3 separate regions of the Homo sapiens genome follow, and regions 1 and 3 are each linked to region 2. The links come from fine-mapping of genetic effects on gene expression. A gene starts in region 2. Each other region holds a variant in brackets. All regions are shown on one strand. Distances are from middle to middle. Region 1 overlaps SOX1-OT (SOX1 overlapping transcript). Region 2 holds the start of LINC00404 (long intergenic non-protein coding RNA 404). Region 3 holds the start of SOX1-OT (SOX1 overlapping transcript).

What was found. PIP is the estimated chance that this variant, and not a neighbour inherited with it, causes the effect. A credible set is the group of variants that fine-mapping cannot tell apart.
Region 1: its variant is the best candidate, but not a certain one, in a credible set for the expression of LINC00404 in amygdala (GTEx, PIP 0.60).
Region 3: its variant is the best candidate, but not a certain one, in a credible set for the expression of LINC00404 in tibial nerve (GTEx, PIP 0.72).

The regions. Positions count from the first base shown.
Region 1 is chr13:111,978,037-111,982,204 of GRCh38, reverse strand. The region is part of intron 1 of SOX1-OT (SOX1 overlapping transcript); the gene reads right to left. Among named protein-coding and RNA genes, the nearest start is that of SOX1-OT, 7.8 kb to the right of the region's middle. The variant T/C (reference allele first, on the strand shown) is at 2,355.
Region 2 is chr13:112,104,509-112,108,676 of GRCh38, reverse strand. LINC00404 (long intergenic non-protein coding RNA 404) reads left to right here and starts at 2,048. Exons shown (of 2, transcript NR_047014.1): 1 at 2,048-2,078; 2 at 2,439-2,582. It overlaps SOX1-OT (SOX1 overlapping transcript), which reads right to left. Exons shown (of 4, transcript NR_120392.1): 4 at 662-965. RefSeq lists enhancers at 660-1,278, 1,899-2,518.
Region 3 is chr13:111,971,174-111,975,341 of GRCh38, reverse strand. It overlaps SOX1-OT (SOX1 overlapping transcript), which reads right to left and starts at 3,032. Exons shown (of 4, transcript NR_120392.1): 1 at 2,949-3,032. The variant CCTG/G (reference allele first, on the strand shown) is at 2,601.

The DNA of each region.
Region 1 (4,168 bases), 130 kb after region 2:
CCAGTGAAGGAAGGAAGGTAAAACAAGATGGGGATGTGGAAGCCCTGAAGTGTCAGGTGGGTCCTGATCTTTAGTTGCTGCCAGAGGGCAGGCAGACTCTTCCCTGAGAAGCCTCACTCACCTCCTGAATTTTGTCATTTGGAGCCAGGCATGTATGGGCACCTGCCCTCTACCCCCACAGCGGTGATTCTCACCTTGGATGTGGGTTAGAAGCCCTTGGGAAGGGCTCTGGCTTCCTGGGTGAGGCCAGCCCTGCATCTGAGACTGCGGGAAAGCTGCCTTGAGGATTCCCTGGGGTGGGGGATCCCAGCTCGAGCATCTACACTAGATGCAGACTTCGAAGTCACTGACCAAGTTTTCAAGCTCTGCCCTGTTCTCTGGGTGACCTGGGGTCTGTGTGGCTACTGCTGCCTCATTCCTACTTTTGTCCAATTGTCCTTTTCTACTGAGACCACACACAAAGCTGATTCCCTTAGTCAGAAATAGAGCAAGTGTACCAGTTCATTTCAGAGGAAACGTGGTGACAAACCACCAGATATTTCATGATAAAGCAGAAAGTCGGAGCCCTACTCGCTGCCAGCAAGCGTCAGGGACAAGTCCTGGGCTCCACCCACTTTGCTCAGCGCTGCTCAAAGGTGCTGGAGAGCCTAGGATGTGGCGATTCTTTCCGGTACCTTTGTTTGTGAAATTCATCATTTATGTACAAAGTGTTTTCTGCGTTTTTACAGGCTGAATTGTGTGTCCCCCCAAAATTAGTGAATGTAACCACATTCCTTAGTGCGAATCAGTCTTCACAGATGTAATTCGTTAAGATGAGGTCACAGTGGAGTAGGTGGCCCAATCCCATAAAACCATGTCCTTATGGAGGGTAAAAATCGGGACCCACGCACCACGCAGGGAGAACGCCAGGAGAAGACCAAGGCTGAAGCTGCGATCATGCATGGGCCAGGCAAGGAGAACATCTCCGGTTGCAGCGAACCACAGAAGCAGGAGAGAGGTTGGAACCGAGTCCCCCACAGCCTCAGGAGGAGCTGGCTCTGCCCACACCTGGACCTCAGTCTGCGGCCTCCAGAGCTGAGAGGGGACACATTTCTGCTGTTCAAGCCTCCTGGGCTGTGGCACTTTGTTACGGCAGCCCCAGGACACAAATACTGGCTCCTACCGATGGCCTGTCCTTCTCTCTTTTTTTTGTCCAAATCTTTCCTCTTTGGCCAAAACAAAAGAGTAGAGAGATGGATGCCGTAGATCCACACACGGATGAGCTTGACTGGATTAGGTTAAAAGTAACGTGGCCTATGAGATTTTTTTTTTGGTATAAATATGAAGAGAAAAAATGAGTCTGAAGATGGAGTTGTTGATTCTGAGTCCGTGCAGGAGTAGCGAGAGGACCACAGCAGAGCCAGCGGAAGAAAGCCCAGCAGGGTGGGACGGCGTGCAGGGGTGCGACACAGACATGCTGGGGACCTGTGTCCACGTGTGCACGCATGTGCCTCACGTGCTCTATATCTGTGACTGTGCAACTTGGCATGTGCAAGTCTGTCCCCCAGCACCACCATGAAACCCTAGCCATGCCCAGGAACAAGGTGTTACTGCGACCTCATTTTACCAGTGAGCAAAACACAGCAGAGACACTGAGTGCCTTAGCCCAGGTACCACAAGCAGTATTCTGTGGTAGAAGAAATCTGAGTAAGGAAGAGGCTCAGTCATTTCTTCTCTTGTCATGAGCTTGGGGAGGCAGGGAGGGCTCTGGGGCTCGACATAAGCTCCATCCCCTGGGCATTACTGCCCAGAGCTCAGGGACCTGACCTAACAGCTGGCTCCGGGCCAGACTCAGGCCACCCTCTTCCCTAGGCTCTTGTGGAGTGATTGGGGACATCTCTGCTGCTCTGGGTGCCTCTGTGCACCTGGAGAAGCCTCATTTTTGAGGCTGGATGGAAAAACAGAGAACACACACCCATCCAGGAGATAGCTAAGTGAGGATTCTGTAGATGAGTGGCTAGGCATTGCTCAGAAAGCTGCCCGTTCATGCTTCTCTCCCGTTACACTCCTGTCCATCCCAGTCCCTTCTCTGTCCCTGTTCTCAGCATCACAGCAGCTGGATCTGGCCCCTTGTCCTCTAATGCTTCTATGGGGCATTTGTCCACGTGCCCCTGACTATTCTACCTTGATAGCAACCTCCATTAACCTCCATGGAACACCTTGGAGTCAGCAAGTTATTTATAGTCAAAACCGAGGGTCAGGAGGGCCCTGGACGGCTCCACTCTCCTCCCTTCCTCTCCCCTCCCCTCCCCTTCCCTCCCCTCCCCTCATGTCCCCCTGCTGTCACAGATGGCCTCTGGTTTGTGATCCTGGGA[T/C]TGGGATCCTGGTCCGTGTGTTAGAGTATCAAAAAAATACACATCTACACCAGAAACATTTTAACGTAAAACACATACATATTTTGCTGTAAGTCCAATGTCTTTTGATGGGTTCTTTCTCTATCTCCCATGTTGGAGTACAGTAGTGTGATCATAGCTCACTGCAGCTTCGAACTCCTGGACTCAAGTGATTTTCCCACGTCAGCCTCCCTAGTAGCTGGGACTACAAGCACACTACCATGTCTGGCTAATTAAAAAAATGATTTGTAGAGATGAGGCCTCATTATGTTGACCAGGCTGGAATTGAACTCCTGGCCTGAAATGATCCTCTTGCCTCAGCCTCTCAATGCCAAAGTCTTTTCTTTGAGTTTCGGGCTGCTGACTGGCTTATGGGGTCTTCTTTCTTGTATAAACACCACCTATCTAAGATGCGTCTTTTAAGGTTCCTCAAAGTGAAACAATGAACTAAAACCATGTGTCAAACAATCTGAATGTCGTCTTAGGCTTCAATGATTTTCCTCAATAATTTACGCTCGTGTATTTTTAAAAGCAATTTGATTTTGTCTGGTCATTCCAAAATACCCAATTTAATTTTCACAGAAAAAAACAATTCATTCTTTTTTTTTGTTGTTGTTGCATTCATATTTCAGTGGCTTATGTAACATTTAAATTACAAATTACAACAGTGATTGCAAAGGGTATTTAAAAAAAAGCATTGGGGCAAATAGCAATCCACCTGGTAGGAGAGAAGTGTGTTTGTGAGCCTTGCTGTTGGGGTTCAGAGGCCATTTATGGAGGGTGGGTGGAGATGGGGTGGCTGTGGAAGGCCTGCCCTGGCTGCTGCCGTCCTCGGCCACCGCGTCTCTCCTTTCCTTGGTGTCTACACTGTGCCTTGGGGCCTGGAATCCCCTGCCATGCCTCCCATTCTAAGGTGGCAGCTGGCAGGACTGCTGGCTACCTTCTCCTCAGGGCCATTGAAAAAGTAAAACGTCACTGGAACAGTTTGGGTGTTTCTTGGCTTCATTCATCTCTTATTCATCCAGTCGCTCGCTGAATATTAATGCTTGGCCAGAGTCAGCTGATTTTAATTCCGGCTGCAAATTATGCTGCCAAGAATTCCCTCCAAGGCCAAGCAAGTTCTTTGCTATGTACCATTTTGGGGAAAGAACCCATGTCTTCACCAGAGTTCCATATATTTGAATAGGTGGGAATTGCTATAATGGAGCTGGCAGGAATGAGTGAACAGGTCCCCAAATCAAGACTGAAATGAAGTCTAAGAAGCTCTCCCCATGGTCCATAAACCCACAGGTGGCAGCCACTGACTGCCATGCATCCCGTAATCTGGAGCTCATGCTGACGGCTCTCACACAGGCGCAGACTCCCTTTTTCCTTTCTATTTTACTGGGATAAAATATGTAGAGCACAAAATTTTCCGTTTTAGCCATTTTCAGTGTACAGTTCAGCAGCATTCATCACACTCACAATGTGGTACAAACATCACCATTATCTGTTGCCAAGACTTTTCCATTACCCCAAAGGAAAACTCTGTGGCCATTAAACAAGTAGCCTCCAGACCCTGCCAGCTCCTTCTTAGCTTTGGGTTTTGGTGAGCCAGCATAGGTATGCCTTTTTACATATCTCGATCTGATCACATATTTAACTAAGAAATACATACTCCTGGTTTTGGGTAAGTGAACACCAAAACACAATCACTTTACATGTGGGACTTGCATTATGCAATAGATGAGTTCATGAAAGTAATCTACTTAGATTCTTTGAAATCCAATAAGGTTATAAATGATCTGGTAAAAATG
Region 2 (4,168 bases):
GGGAGGAAGGCCAGAACAAGCCAACCGTCACTGGCTCCGGCGCTGGCCAGAACCACTGGGCACCCTGGAGGGTTCTTTGTGCAGGAAAGAGGTCCAACCTGTGCCCAGAGCTTCTGTGGACCATCAGCTTCACCCCCCAATGATGACCTCTGCATCCCCTCAACAGACAGATTTTGAAACCCACAATTAGCCAGGCACTGTCCCCTTGCCCCTGGGGAGACATCAGTGACCCGGACTGGCCATCAGTGACCCAGGCTGGCAAAAACTCCCTCTCTATGCAACTTCCTGGGATTCCCCTCCCACAGCCACATCTCCAAAAAGCCGGCCTCTAGCTTGGAGCCCTGTCCCTAGCCTTTGGCAGCCTTGTCTGCAGGTGGGGTGGCAGGAGCTGGGGCCAGAGGATGGGGGCAAGGCTGCCCAGGCCCAGCCAGGGGCTGGCACACATGAAGAACCTCCTGCTGGGTGTGATCTGTGACTTTCCAGAGCCTTCAGGCCACATCATACAATGCTCTAGGAAGGAAACAAAATGGTGTCCCAGTTCAAAATTATCCACATTTACCAAGAGTCCCCCGCTTACCCCGCCCACCCCGTAGCTTTTTCCTGGGTCTAGATGGCGCCACTTTCAATCCCGCCCCCCACCAAAAATGACACACCCAATAAATAGATTTCCTCCATGTATTTCCCTGTTGTTGTGTTTACAAAAACATTGTTGGTTGCACTACCCCTTCACATCCTACCCCCTCCTTTTGTCAGAAGGAGGGCAGGCATTTCGGGGGCCTGGGCGCTCAAGGAAGGCCTCGCGGGTGCAGGAGAGGCCTTGGGGTGTGCAGGGGAGAACCTGCCCCTCTGCCGTCTTCGACCTTAAAGTTTAGTCCTCGGCTCTGGTCTGGTGGCTTTCTCTTGCCTTCTCCTAGGAAGTTTTCCCAGCCTCAGATGCGGCAGAGAGGGGACAGCAGCTTGGAGTCCTGTGAGGAGGTGGAAGGACACGTTAGTGGAGATCCTGGGCCTGAGGAGAACTAGCATTGCTCAGGGGAGGAAAATTGCCTCTGCTGGCGCCTGCGGCCTCCCACGAATCTGAGAAACACTACTCCACCCGCCTCTGCGTCCCTCAGGCCCTAACGGTGGTTTGCGCTCCTGGGTTCTAGCGCCCTTGGGTCTCGCTCGCTGGTGCCCGCCCTGCACCCGGGGCATCAGGAGCACCCCTCCCCACCATTCAGATTCTAGAGGAACGAGACCACTTGGGCAGGTGCGGGTAGGGGACCGGGCGTGGAAAGCGGGAGTGCAAGCAGGTCCTCAAGTCACTGAGACTCTCCTCACCTTGGGGTGGGGACTGGAAGTTTGTGAGCTGCTTGCAATCCTGCAGTTTGAGGAGCGTGGCCTGATGTTTTAACTGTTTTGCTTTAGGGCGCGCAGCCTCTCTGACATGCATTGTTGTGAGTTCACCCTAAAGGGTATGACTTCAGAAACGATCACTGCCGCGATCATTAAAACAGAAGATGATGTCTATGAAATTCACTCGACTTGGTATCTGGGCCTCTTTCAGTGAATTTAAACTCGCAACATTAAAGCAACTCTTGGGAGAAAACGGGAATATGTCCAAATCTCAGGTCATTCAAGTCAGACATCCGCGCTCAGAACCCCAAGGAAGGCTTTTAAAGTTGCGGAATGCACCAGAAGGAGAGCAGGGATCCCCCGAGGCCCCACTTGCGAAAGACCCCCCTCCCTGGGCCCCTCCTCCTCTTCCTACCCCTACCAACGTTGGAGGGGGTCTGGACTTTGAAACTTGTCACGGGGAAAAGAACCTTCGCCGAGAAGGCTGCTAATGAATTCAGACTGCATAGTTCTCAAAATCTGATGTTTTGCAATGATGACATTAGCGTGGCGGCCGAGGGTCCGAGCCCAGAAAGTCTGCGCAGCTGCTCGGCGCTTTGAGCGCCCGGGACAATGGGCGCAGTGTTCGGCCTCGGCCTCTCCAGGCCATTTGCATACCCCGTTCTGCCTGAGTGACCGGCGGAGCTGCGGCAGGGAGCAGCATTGTCCACGGGTCACTTCAAGATGAGCGAGATGACAAGAGCCAGGTGAGCGATGGGGCGGGACATTCCCCAGGTCACGAGAAGAAAACGCGGGGAGAGCCTTGGCCAGAGCTTGGGTTTGTTGATTCTCGAGGTGGGATTTGCTCGTTTGCTCTTAAAGCACTCATCAGATGTTGTAGGGGGAAATTCGAGATTTAAAGATTTTTAACAAGAATTTACAAAGCCTCATTTTGGGAGTAATTTGGGGTCTTCCTTTTTCTGAAAAATCCAGTGATCTTATGGCATTTTATTTCATTGTATTCTTTCACTCTTCGAAGTTTAAGAGTTCCACCGCCAAAGGGAAGCAGTTTCATTCTCTATAGCCAAAAGCTGTCACCAGTTGAGTCTGAATTTGTTATTTTCCAGAAACACCATTTTGAAAAGTTGCAACTGAGGCCCCTTGGCCGGCAAATCTGAGCTGCAGAAGCGCCTGAATTCCGGACGTTAAACCTCCAATCACCAGCCAGGGCAGCTCCGGCTGGGACAGCGCGGGCGCGCGGCCCCTCCACCGCCGCCAAACGGAGCGCGCTTGACGCCCCCGTTTTGACTTCAGCTCAGAAAGACAAGTCTTTGTAATGCAAGTTCCTCTTCCCTAGAGAGTTGACGCACCACCTGCCACCATCTCTACCCCTAGCCCTGGAGCGGCCTGCAGAACTGGGACTCTTCTCTTGTGGATTTCAATCGTGGGGCGTGTAACTGTTGCCAATAATTTTCAGAGACCTGGATCCTTAAGGAGGGGATCCTGGGGGAGGGACCTGAGGTGGGAACGGGTGGGTGGGACGAAGGACGAAGCCAGAAAAACCGAGACAACAGGAGGGAGGCAAGGGACCGAGGGCAACGTTTCTCCCAAGTGAAACACGCTGCATTCCGGCACCGACGGCTCCTCCGGCGCCTGGGCCCCCCCAGGCCCCGCCGCGATGCACCCAGGGCCTCCCGAGGCCGCGCTCCACCCAGGCTGCTCCGGGTCCGCAGCCCCACAGGCCCTCCTCCCCTCACCCCTCCTCCTCCCTCCGCCTCCCGCACCCGCGCACCACCCACTCGAGCGAAAAGCAAGTCAAGCAAATCCTGGGGAAGGCGCCCCACAGCCCTCTCCCGCGGGCACCAACACCTGGGCACACCGCGTCTCAGGCGGTAGCGGAGCTGGCCCACACCGGCCCCGCCAGCGCCCGGGAGGCGTCTCCAGGTCCCTACCCGCGTTCGCTGCGGATTGCAGCGACGCTCATCTCGGGAATATAACGATTAATCCAACCGCAGGTTTCCAGATAAGTGATTGTGATGGAGACTGTTGGCGAGAAAATAGACAATTATCCGCTGTTAGCTTTACATAAAGATCGCATTAACTCAAATTAGTTATCAGACAAAAGAGCGTCGGCGCGCGCGCCCTGCCTGCCCCGCGCCCTGCCCGCGGGGACCCCCGGGCACAACCAGGCCCAGGGCACGGCAGGCAGGGCCGAGGCCTCGGCAGGGCGCGAGGAGAGGGGGCATGCACTAGGGGGCTCCGAGCTCTGGCCCCCGCGGGGACTGCGTGTTGCGCCCTCCTAGACGCAGCGCGGGGCTCCAGACGGGGACAGGGTGGCTGCCCGAGCGCTCCCCGCCCCCCAGCGCTCCCCTCCGCTGCGCTCCGGCTCCCCGCTGCTGCGCCCCTCCCGCCCTCGCGTCCCGCTGCCGCAGTCCCTCTTCCCCCGCGCGCTCCGCGAGGCGCTACCCTTTTCTTTCTGGCGCCCGCAGCACCAAGTTGCTGGTCCCTGAGCACGAGGAGACGAAGTTAATGACTCCGGGAGGGAACTGCCCCTCGACCCCAAACTCGCAGCGAAAGCGTCCTCGGCCATGCGAACACTCTTAGACTACCGTCCTGTGCCCCGCCGTCCCCACTCCACGCGTGCGGTCACTGTCCCTCCCGGGGTCGCTCCCTGCGGGGCCGCGCTGCCACTCGGACAGGAGAGGGGACCAATGGGAAAGGTGGGCTGGGGAGAAAGGGCGCAGAGCGACCCTGGAGCTGGGTGTCCATGGCCTGGGGGCACCGGCTGAAACGTGGCCGTACAGCCTGGACGCCGACAGAAGTTGCGCACTGCCCACGCGCCGCGTGGCCTACTGGC
Region 3 (4,168 bases), 130 kb after region 2:
ACACAGGCATACCCACACATGTACACATGTGCACACACACTCATACTCTACACACATCTGTGTACACACACCCACACACATGTACATGACACCCACATCTGTGTACACATAGGCACACATACCCACACACATACACATGTGCAGTCATACTCTACACACATGTACACACGCCTGCACACATGTACACATCTGTGTACACACTCACATATAACTGCACACATGTACACAACACCCACATCTATGTACGCACACATATCTGCACATATGTACACATGTGCACACACTACACGTGTGTACATGACATCCACATCTGTGTACATACTCTTGCATGCATACCTGCACACATGTACAAGACACCCATATCTGTGTACATACATGCCCACACACATGTACATATGTGCACACAGTCATACTTTACACATGTGTACACAACACCCACATCTGTCTACACATACATACCTGCACACATGTACCTGACACCCACATCTGTGTATGCACACTTACATACACACATGTACATGACACCCACATCTGTGTACACACACGCATACCACACACGTGTACACATGTGCATATACACTCATACTTTACACATGTGTACACGACACCCGCATCTGTGTACACACACTTTCATACATACTCCCACACATGTACACGACACATCTGTGTACACACACATGCATACCCACACACGTATACGCATGTGCACACACACTTATACTCTGCACATGTGTACACGACACCCACATCTGTGTACACACACTCACATGGATACCCACGCACGTGTACACATATGCACACATCCATGAACACTTGTGCACACACCTAGCGCACAAACAGGCGTGCACCCGTGTATGCCTTACGCACACACAAGCAGGCACCGTCAGTCCTGTGTAGTGTGGGGTCACCTGTGAGTCACCCCGGGAACACGCAGCTCCACAGGCGGCGCCCATCTGTTAAAATTTTGAAAAGACAGCCCACACTGGCTCTGTTGAGAGCGGCTGCCTCTACGTTCTTGCTGCCCCCTCACAAATCAGACACTGCACATATGTTGTGATAGCAACTGTTACTCTTTGTTTATTCCCTCTATAAATAAACTCGGAGCTGCATCAGACCCTGTGAATATTTTTAGAAAGTTTCGGGCATCACAGCGGAATTCAGCATCTTGCCCATTCATAAGCTTTCTGTGCTTCAGAAAACCAAACACGCGACAGATTCCCACTGACATTCTGCCAGTTTGATCTCTAAATAATTCAGCATTAAAATCTGGTCAGCTCTCCTACCTCCCCGAAAAACTCCTGCAAACACTGTGCCAATTAAGTTGCTGAAAACAGCAGATTTGCACTGATACCATCCAGATAAAGCTGACCATTAAATCGCAATTTAACATCCCCGGGCAGCAGTGGCTGCTGACAGCCTCCAAAGCTTGCAATCTCATTTAACCCCCTCCTGTCAGGAGCAGGCCCGCCCTCTCAGCATAATGCCGCCAAATTAGACCTGACAGGGCAACAAGAGAAAGAAAAACCTCTTTAGCTTAAAAGTCAGGCCACAGTGGGCAACCCTGACCTTCAGCGTCCCCTGCTCAGCCCCCTGGGTTCTCCAGGGACCCCGGAGACATTTACGCAGAGAGAGGAGGAGAGAGATGGACAGAGGGGAGTGGGGCGGGGGCCCCGGCCACAAGGCACTTGGATTTCCCAGGGGGCAAATTACAGAGAATTTTCCTAGACAATGGAAGAAAATTTCACCTGGGCTTTTTCAAGTCTTTCTTTGGTAATAAAAGATGAACCCTGATGGTTCTGTTCAAACTACTGTGGCTCAATATTTCCCTGTGCCTGTAGTGCCCTCTGACTCCGAAGCCAGGGGACGCCTCTGTTGGAACACAGAGCCCCCTCCATGCCGCAGACGCCTGCATTTTAGATGAGGCCATCTTAGCTGGTGGCTGCAGCCTTCAAAGCCCTCCCCATAACTGGCATTTACCAGAGCTCTGTTTTCATAAGGAAATCAGGCTGCCTCCGAGACCCCTGACCACACGCGCTCTCGCCGCTGTCCTTTCCACCCGCTCCACCTGTTCTGCTAAGAGAGGGTGCGGGAAAAGGAACGGAAGGAGGGGAGGGTCCCGGCACAGCCGATGGGAGACGATTTTCACAACAGTCAGGAGGATTTCTCCAAATCCAGACGGAGCTACTCTCAGAGAAACGGCTACCCCACGTTTCACACCCGACAAACGAGGACAGAGGCAGTTGTAACTAAAATGACTTCCATGTATATTCTAGTTCAAATCAGTCATTAATCTAACAGAGATTCCTTTGCAAACACACACTTTTTGTTTTTTCTCCTGTACAAAGAAAAATGCTTTAAGGCCAAAAGTTAGAAGGGTGTCACCCATCAGTTTTGTAACACATCCTGGACCTTAAGAAAACCGAAGGCAATACCCCACTCTAAAATCCTGTCCGTCTCTTCTTCCTCCTCTTCAGTCCTCTCCTTGCCTGAATTTCATAAATAGATTGTGATTGCACAAGTCAAAAACTTCTCAAAGTCGAGCTTAAAAGAGACAGAGAGTCAGAGACAGAGAGAGAGAGGGAGAGAGAAGTCCTCCTCCT[CCTG/G]GAGTCACTCCCTCTTTAGGCAGCGGTTCAACACCTGTAAGAAGGCCTTTTTAAAAAGGAGAGAAGAGCCAAGCTGCTTGCAGGAACAGAGCCCCAGGCGTCAGCGCAGTCTGCTGCCCACCTCTGCGGTGCCCCAACCTCCTGTGACTTACCGTCCGGGCTCCCAGGGCCACACCGCAGGAAGGACTTCCTAGCGCTCCTGGAAACCGCTGCCCTCCACGCCGTGGTCGCGACCTGCTGCAGAGGCCGGCTCTCGGGGGCTACTGACCCACTCAAGTTCCGAAGTCTCCCCCCTCCATTTTTTCCCCTCCTTAAGTTAGACGAAATGGCTATAGCAGAACCCACCTCAATGTTTATTTCGACTTCCCGGGGCTGCAGTGGAGTGAAGTCCTGCCTGCCCACGCTTTTCTGCAATGGAGTGGTTTATTTAATTTGTCAGAATAATGGGAGCGGCTGAATGAGAGACAGAGAATGCAGTGTGGTATAAAAGAAACAAAGGCTAAAAGTACCACTATTTTGATTCCCTTTTTAAAATTACTTCCAAAGTGTGGTATCTATTGTGAAGAATAATGCTGAACAAAGCAGTGTCTTGGCAAGATTCACAGAGCTTATTCACCCACAGCCAGTTCTGCCTGCGCATTCAGAGGTAGGACACACTTATAAATGATGTATTGGAAGGACCATAGCTCCTATTGTGTTCTCAGTGTAAACAAAAAGGCAGACAGGGGCTGAATGGTGTGTAGGCAGTGAGGCCACGCTGCAGCCAGCCATCCCCGGTTCTGGAGAGGGAAAACTGAAGTCAGCGGAAGCCCCAGCAGAGTCAGTTTGTTGAAGGCTCATCCCCCACTTTCTCCTCTTTGTCCATCAACCCTAGTCAGGGGCTGGAAAGGCTTCTAGAAGGTTCTCCTGGGAAGCACTGCCTGGAACATCCCTGCCACTCACGCTCCAGGTGGACGGTGCGTCCTGAACCTGACGATTTCCAGAATCTTTCAGTGAGAGGACACTAGTCTCCCCCGATAACAGCAGCTTCCACGAGTTTCAGCAAACTTCATGACGGCCTCTGTGCACTGTGCGCAGGAGCTGGGGGTGGGTTCCTGCAGCCTCCCAGGCCAGCCCCTGACAGCTGGAGGAAGTTCTGTTGTTACCGAGGCAGGCATGAGGCTTTCTCTCTGGCCCTAGAATCTCTCATTCTGAAGGTCCTGCAGTGGATCCACCTGGGGCAGCTGGATTCTGCATTCCCCTGCAGGTGGGCAATGCTTTCTGGTTTAATCTTTCAGCTCAGAGCCTAAGTTTTTTTTTTTTTTTTTTTTTTTTTTAGACAGTTTCGCTCTTGTTGCCTAGGCTGGGGTACGATGGCGCAATCTCGGCTTACCACAACCTCTGCCTCCTGGGTTCAAGCCATTCTCCTGCCTCAATCTCCCGAGTAGCTGGGATTACAGGTGCATACCACCACGCCTGGCTAAGTATTTCTTTAGTGAAACAACTTCACTGCATTTGTCAAAAAAGGGCCCTGCTGTTTATAAACTGTAAACTTCAACTTCCCTTGTCCATTTGATGTAAAAGCA